2 linked regions of the Homo sapiens genome follow. The protein of the gene in region 1 purifies or fractionates together with the protein of each later gene. This does not show direct contact. Each region holds a gene or a part of one and is shown on either strand. Other genes may lie near its edges.

What was found.
Region 2: the proteins of ERI3 (region 1) and TTK fractionate together in Homo sapiens (co-fractionation; one large-scale study listed by BioGRID). This does not show direct contact.

What each region holds. Positions count from the first base shown.
Region 1 is NC_000001.11:44,320,758-44,324,257, reverse strand, and holds part of ERI3 (ERI1 exoribonuclease 3), read left to right. Parts: intron 1-3,500.
Region 2 is NC_000006.12:80,039,149-80,042,648, reverse strand, and holds the end of TTK (dual specificity protein kinase TTK), read right to left. Parts: intron 2,954-3,500; coding exon 2,777-2,953; intron 2,454-2,776; coding exon 2,369-2,453; intron 2,044-2,368; coding exon 1,946-2,043; intron 531-1,945; coding exon 447-530; 3' UTR 122-446; downstream 1-121.

The sequences.
Region 1 (3,500 bases):
TGATTCTGCGGAGAGTTTTGTGTCTTCTGGTACAGCTAGGCCTTTGGCTTGTCTCCTCCACTTAGCAGCCCTTTCATGTGATTACACAACAAAAGTTGAGAGAGTGAAGCCTGTGTGCCAGCATAGGAATTAGGTGCTGGAGATCACACTGAAGGCACATGGTTCCTGCCTTCCCTGATGCCATCTGTGCCATCTGTGTTACTGCAGCCATGGTGGAGTCTTTTCAGTAGCAAACTCTAGAACTTTTCTGCCTGGAGAGTCCACATTCATTGCTCTTAAAATTTGAGAGCAGCCTCTCTTTCTAGATGGTAGACTTGAGTTCTCTACAGGATAGCCTTTTAGACTAAGAGAACCAGATCTTTCTTGACCCTTCATATTTTGAAAGCTGCTAGTCCTACTCTTAAGTCTCATTCTCATTTTCCCATTTTGGAGTTCCAGCTCTGTCCCTCACAAGCAGTGTAAGTGTCAGCAAGTGAGTTAACATCTTTGGGCCTTAGTTTATTTGTGAAATAGGGATGACTATGATTCCCACCTCATGAGTTAGGAGGATTAAATGAGATCATTCCTATTAGCACAGTATCTGCCACGTAGTAAACAATAAATGGAATAAAACGATTGCATTTTCCACATGTCTTGGAGAGCACTGGAGGCCAGCTCCTCTTCACCCTTTGCCCAGACTTGAGCATCTCAGAGAGAGGAGCCACCTTTCATTGTATTCATCTCTGTGTCTACAGCCAGCCCCTGCCTGGTGAATAGTAGATGCTTAATAGTATTGATTTATGACCTGAAGATGGTGATGGTGATGATGATGTAACCTGTCTGCCAGGATTAAGGAGGGTAAAATAAGAAAATGTATGTGAAACTACACTTTTGTGAATGGAAAAACAACACTGTGTACGTCCCTCCACTAAGGTATTTATCACAGTGTACTGTTCTTTGTTTGCCTATCTTTTCCACTCATAGTCCATGTGCTTCTCCAAAGTGGAGACTACATCTTATCTCTAGTCCTGCTCCAGCCCCTGTCTGATAGCCTACACAAAGTAGGCACTCAGGTAGTTTAATTGAATGCAAATGGCATACAAAGGCAAAGAATTGTAAAGCTATTATTAGGATAGGGAAAGAGGGCTGGTAAATACGACTGGTCCTTCCTTCCTTCCTGGTGCTACTTTTACACAAAACTGTTTCTGAAATAAACCTCTTCCTAGGGGAATGATGAAATTGGCTGAGAGAAAAGGTCAGGGTCAGGAATAACAGTTTCATTATCTGAGCAACTGGACATAGAGGCTGGCACTTGGGCACATTGTCACAAATCTTTGTGTTGGGATTAATGCCACTAACCTGTAGTGTTGGGGTTCCATCTCTGATCATTATCAGCTAAAAATCTTCAAAATGTTTGTCATGCTTCAGGTGCCCTGGCTGCAGAGTTGTGCCAACTTGGTGCAGATTGGGGCACCTCTCCCACTACTGGGCTGTTTGGGCCAGTATTTTGAGGTTCTGGGAAGTATGGAAGTACTGGCTGGGCAATATGGGATGGTAAGAAGTACCTCAGTGAGGTCCTTGCTGCTCTAATTTCTCAGAGAGTCTTTTCTCAGAAGCTTCTCTTTTGCATCCTCAGTAGCTCAAGTGAATATGCCAGTGTGTAGGCTCATTGTTAATAACAGCTCCTCATGTTGTGGAGGAAGGGCCCCTGCAAAGTCACGTTTTGAGACTGGTGCTTGAAACCACCTCTTCTTGGTCTTGGGGAGAAGGCTTGGCTGATGAGCTAGCATTATCAGAGATATGTTTATAATAGGCCCAATTTGATGTGTCCTGAGCCTTGGGTGTAGGCACCCTGGGAATTTCAGGGGCCTACCCCCCTCCTTTTTTTTTTTTTTGCGTGGATCCGAGTCTGGCTTGTTCTTCCTCTCTGGGAGCATGGCACTGAGTTTCAGCACGTAGTTGGCCCCATTTCCCTATGGGTGAGGAAGCTAACATCAGGAAAGTTTGAATATTGAGCTACAGTATTTGCTGTTATTTGCTGCAATGCGGAAACCCAAAGGCCAAGTTTCCAGAGAGTCTGCTGGGGATGTTGACTTGGTGCTGGTCAGAGTGGAAGCTGAAGCACATACTATTTTATAATAAATACTAATGAAATCCTAGATCTATAATAGCATTTCGGATATCTAAAACAAACCATGTGCTTGTAAAAAAGTGGAAAGAGATCAACTTTAAGCCATAAATTCTTGGTAATAGAGGGTTTTTTTCTATTAATGTTTGATAGATATTTTTATTTCCAGAGGAATGTCAACTCCTAATTTCATAATGTATCATGGGCTTAAGAAAATTGAATTTAATAAAAAGCCAAAGATGAATGGCATCCTTAAAGGTCCCAACACTTGTCTTTATTAGCAGGACAAACTGTAGGTCTCCAAACACTGCTGCTCTCCAAATGAAAGTTTAAATGAAAAGTACAGTTGTGTCACAGGTTAAATTTCATTGTGGGCCCAGCTAACATTGTTAGTGAGGAGCTGGCTGTATTTGTTTCCTTAGACACCAGGGCAGCCATACTCACCAGGCTATAGAGCTCTTTCTGTTGAGGAAGTGTTTCTTCTACTTAGGGGAAGAGGAAGGACACATCGGAAAAATCAGGAGTCAGATGAGCCTGATTCATGGGCAACACCTCAGAGTTGGCTCTTGGAATCCTGGATACCTGATTTTGCAGGGGGACCAATGTGTATTTTTTTGGTGTGTGTTCGATTTTGTTATTCAGTTCCAAACCCCCATTTACTCTGTATGTAATGCTTCTTGGGGAACAGAAGGTCCAGGGAATTGGGAAATGAGTGTCCCCCTCTCTTCACCTTGGAAGGAGAGGTATTACCTGGTCTAAGCAGCAGTCTGGGCCTCCCTTCTCTCCCCTCTGCCTCAGCCTTGCAGCCATTTTGCCCTTTCTATCTCTGGGAATAAGCTCCTGTCAGCTTCCTCATCTTTGGAGATCAGCCCACGGAGACAAGGCAACCACAATCTTTGAATCTCTCTGGCATGAAGTCTGACTGACTTGATTTGGTTTTCGGTCCTGATGTGTTGGATTGAAATAGATGCTTTAAAAACAAGCCCAATATTAGTGGGTATGTTTTGCCGGGAGGATACCTGGCTTTCCTGGGACATCAAGGAGATTGACCATTTCTCCTTGTGTTTTCCCACCCATCAATTTCCTAAGTGCAGTCAGGTGTCATCCGTTTCGTGTTGCTTCTCCAGGCTGTCTCTGGAGAGAACCACTTTACCTTGATTTTAATGATACTGGAAAGGTCTTCTCCAGAATGAAGGACCTGGGGAAGGGGTGCTGCTGGAGCTGACTATTAGGGTCACTGAATAGGCAGAGCCCCCTTCCTTTCTCTCTGCAGTGGAGGCCCTTTCCACATGCTAATTTTACTCAGAGAATTTTGCTTTTATTTATTTTTTTTATTATTTCCTATTTGTCTCTTCCAGATGTTTTCAGGGCAGTTTTTTTTTGTGTTGTAAAC
Region 2 (3,500 bases), on another chromosome or scaffold:
TTTCAAAGTTCATTTACTAAGGTCTAGTCTCACATCTTCCCTAATCTACTTTTTACTAATTAAGAATTTTGCTGCCATGCCAACAATACATTTGCTTAAAGAAAACAACCTTACAACTTTGAAATGTTAGTGTCATTTTAGCCACAAAACTTTATTTACAAAGTTTTTTAGAATATACTTGCTATCCACCCACTATTCCAAGAGTAAAATGATGTCAAGTAGATTACACAAGAGCATAAAACAGAGAAAACAAGTCTACAATATATACAGTGCCATAAGTGGTTGCTATTTTTACAGTTTTCTTTTAAAGATAATCTACTGAATTTTTTTTGCTGATAACACTTCAGAGTGATGTTGTCTTCAAATGTAGATTTCCACAGGGATTCAAGAGTATAACAGTCCAATATATTTTATAGGTGGTATCTGACATTACGAATAACTGCAAATCATTTTTTTCCCCTTTTTTTTTCAAAAGTCTTGGAGGATGAAGAATTATGACTTTCACCACCACTATAGTGTTCATATAAAGTCTGAAATTAAAAAACACAAATCTGTTTTGCAATTTTTTAGTTAAATGTACTGTCACATCAGTAGATGTATTTTGATGTATTCTAAATATAATACATTTATTTCTCTCTTGTTCTTACAGTTGGGAAATTATTTTATAAACTATTAGAGATAATAAAGAATTTTAAACACGAAGCTTGGCCTTAAGCATTACCTATCATGAGATATAACTCAATCTTTCTATGAGAGAAATATAACAGAGCTACTAATAAACATACATATGAGCCTTCAAGGCCTTCTTTATCTCTTTACTTTTTCTTAAATAAAGCCAGTCTTAGGTAAATTCCTATACAAAATATATTTATTAGGAAACTTTATATTCTCAGATGATAATAAGCTAATAAATAGAAGACATTACAAATTATATAAATATAATAATTAGATATATATTAAAATCCATGTATTTAAAAATGATTTAAGACTCAGCTAACATCTAACTTATGAAGATGGCAGACATCTTTGCCCTCAAGGAACATACAACTTCAGTTATAAAAATAATCCACCTCAACTATAGCTATAAGAGGCTTTGAATAATATATTAGTATAAACTTAAAACATGGAGATACAAAATACAGAGCAATTACAAAACAAATTTGGTCCACTTTTAATTACTAAATCCATTGATTTAGCCATTAGCATTTGAGAAAATTTAAGAAAACAGGTACCTCATATCATATAAATGCAAATATAGTGAATATATAGTAAATTCCTTCAAAAAATGTATTCAAGTTCTTGGCAACTTAGATGGATTTTATATGTATCCAGAGAGCTACGAGTATTGATAGTTTAGGTTCCCATAATTTTATGATAATGTTGTAACTGAAATACATAATTAGTAACTGCTTGTTGGCTAAATCAGTTGGTCAATAAGCATTCACAGGGTTCTAGAAATAACTAGGTGTTTGAAAAATCATGGTATAGATATAAATGGACATTGGGAAGCTAAAAAGCTTGAGACTTGTGCTTTGAGAATTGTGTTGATTGCTGTGTACAGCTTCAAAAAAGCCATTACATGTAATGTCTCTAAGGAAAAAACTGGCTAAAAGGAATGAATTCAAAAGCTGTATTAATAATGGTGCTGAATTAAAAGACACACTATATTCCTATATTAAATGTATTCCAGTTGAGACGTGACAGCAATCTTTTGAATGCACCTTATGTGATGATCTACTTTGAACTGTACTGTATGCAGAAGAAGAATATAAATCAAGTAAATCGATATTTGTCAAAATGCACATGTTAAGTATCTAAATGTAGAAACATGTTTCATAACTGATCTGATGATTGGACCAACTTTTCTTCAGACTACCTGTTTCCTTAAGTGTCGAATTCACTATATAAAACAGTAAAAATTAATGTAAAGAATAGACATACTTACTTTAGCAGCTTTCAAAATGGAGTTAGGAGAATTCAGACCAACAAGTTGGCCCAGAACATATTTCATTTCTTCAGTGGTTCCCTTGGCCATTTGGTTAACTATAAAATAAATCAATAATACACTAGTACCAGTAAGAAAAATATAAGTCCATTGTAAATACACATTTTGTTTAATAGCACAAAGTGATATTCTTATAATTTATCACTGATTATAACCCGTTATCTGGAATAAGTAAAAATAAATACCAGAAGTAAAGAAAAAAAAGTTTATTTACTTTACTATTTATAATAATGGAACTTCCTTAAGGAAAAAGGCAGGCTGACAAAGGGTAGCCAATTTAGATTCTGTCTTTGTTATATTAATAGGTAACAGACTGTTTATACTACCAATCTAGTAATAAACAAATTTTTAAAGAAGTAGTACCTGGATGAGTTTGAATTTGAACATATGGATGAGCCAGGAGCTCAGGAATGGATATCCTCTGTTTTGGGTCCCTTTTTAAACAACACTATTAAAACAAAGATATTTTAAAAGAAAAACAAAGCAGGTTTTCATATATGATATTGATAAAGTATTTTTCCAGATTACATTATATTATAAAAGTTACTTTTTAGATATCCCACTAAAGTATTATGACAAGATTATTTCTCCCAAGGCACTTTTGCAAAATCCCCAAGTATTTACAAGCTTTAAAACATCTTCAAAGTAAAAAAACTAATTCAGTTAGCAATTCTTTTGAATAGAACAGTTATATCTAAGCCAGTTACATAATTCCAATTATTTCAACTATTTCTTTTAAGTAAATAATTAGTTACATGAAATTAATATTACCTTTAACACATCTTGAAGATCTTTCTCTGGAATATCGGGAAATTCAATTTCATGATTAGGATCAATTATGGCATGTAATTTAGAAATCTGATTAATTATCTGCTGAAATGGTGTTTTCCCGTAAGTCATATAGTACAAAATACATCCTAAGGACCAAACATCACTTTTGGGGCTTATCTAAGAAAAAAACAAACAAACACAAAAAAGTTGCTGTTATTTTCATATAAAATGAAAAAACATATATATTAAATATACATATTTAAAATCATAATTAAATCTCAATGAATGTGTACTACATTATGTTAACATGACAAAACATCTTTTTCTAGTTTTCATTTCAGTTGGTTATTCCATCAGAAGATATGAGCTTTACTTTAAATCTTTCTATAACCTCATAATTAAAATATTGCAATTAAGACAAAATATTAAATTCTTCCCAACTTGTGAAAATATAAAATTAAAAAATGTAAGTTTTAAGTTTGTTTTCCCCAGAATTACTGGATTATAATAAATTTTTATATAAGTACAAAGTATGTATACAGTTTCAAAGGTTGCTTAAATTATGCAACCCTTCAGACAAGACCATTGGAAATAATAAATAAGCAATACAACTTTAAACCCAAGCACATATACTATAGAACTATGCGGAGCTTGTGTCCAAAATCCTCAAGTATTTACAAGCTTTAAAACATCTTCAAAGTAAAAAACTAATTCAGTTAGCAAT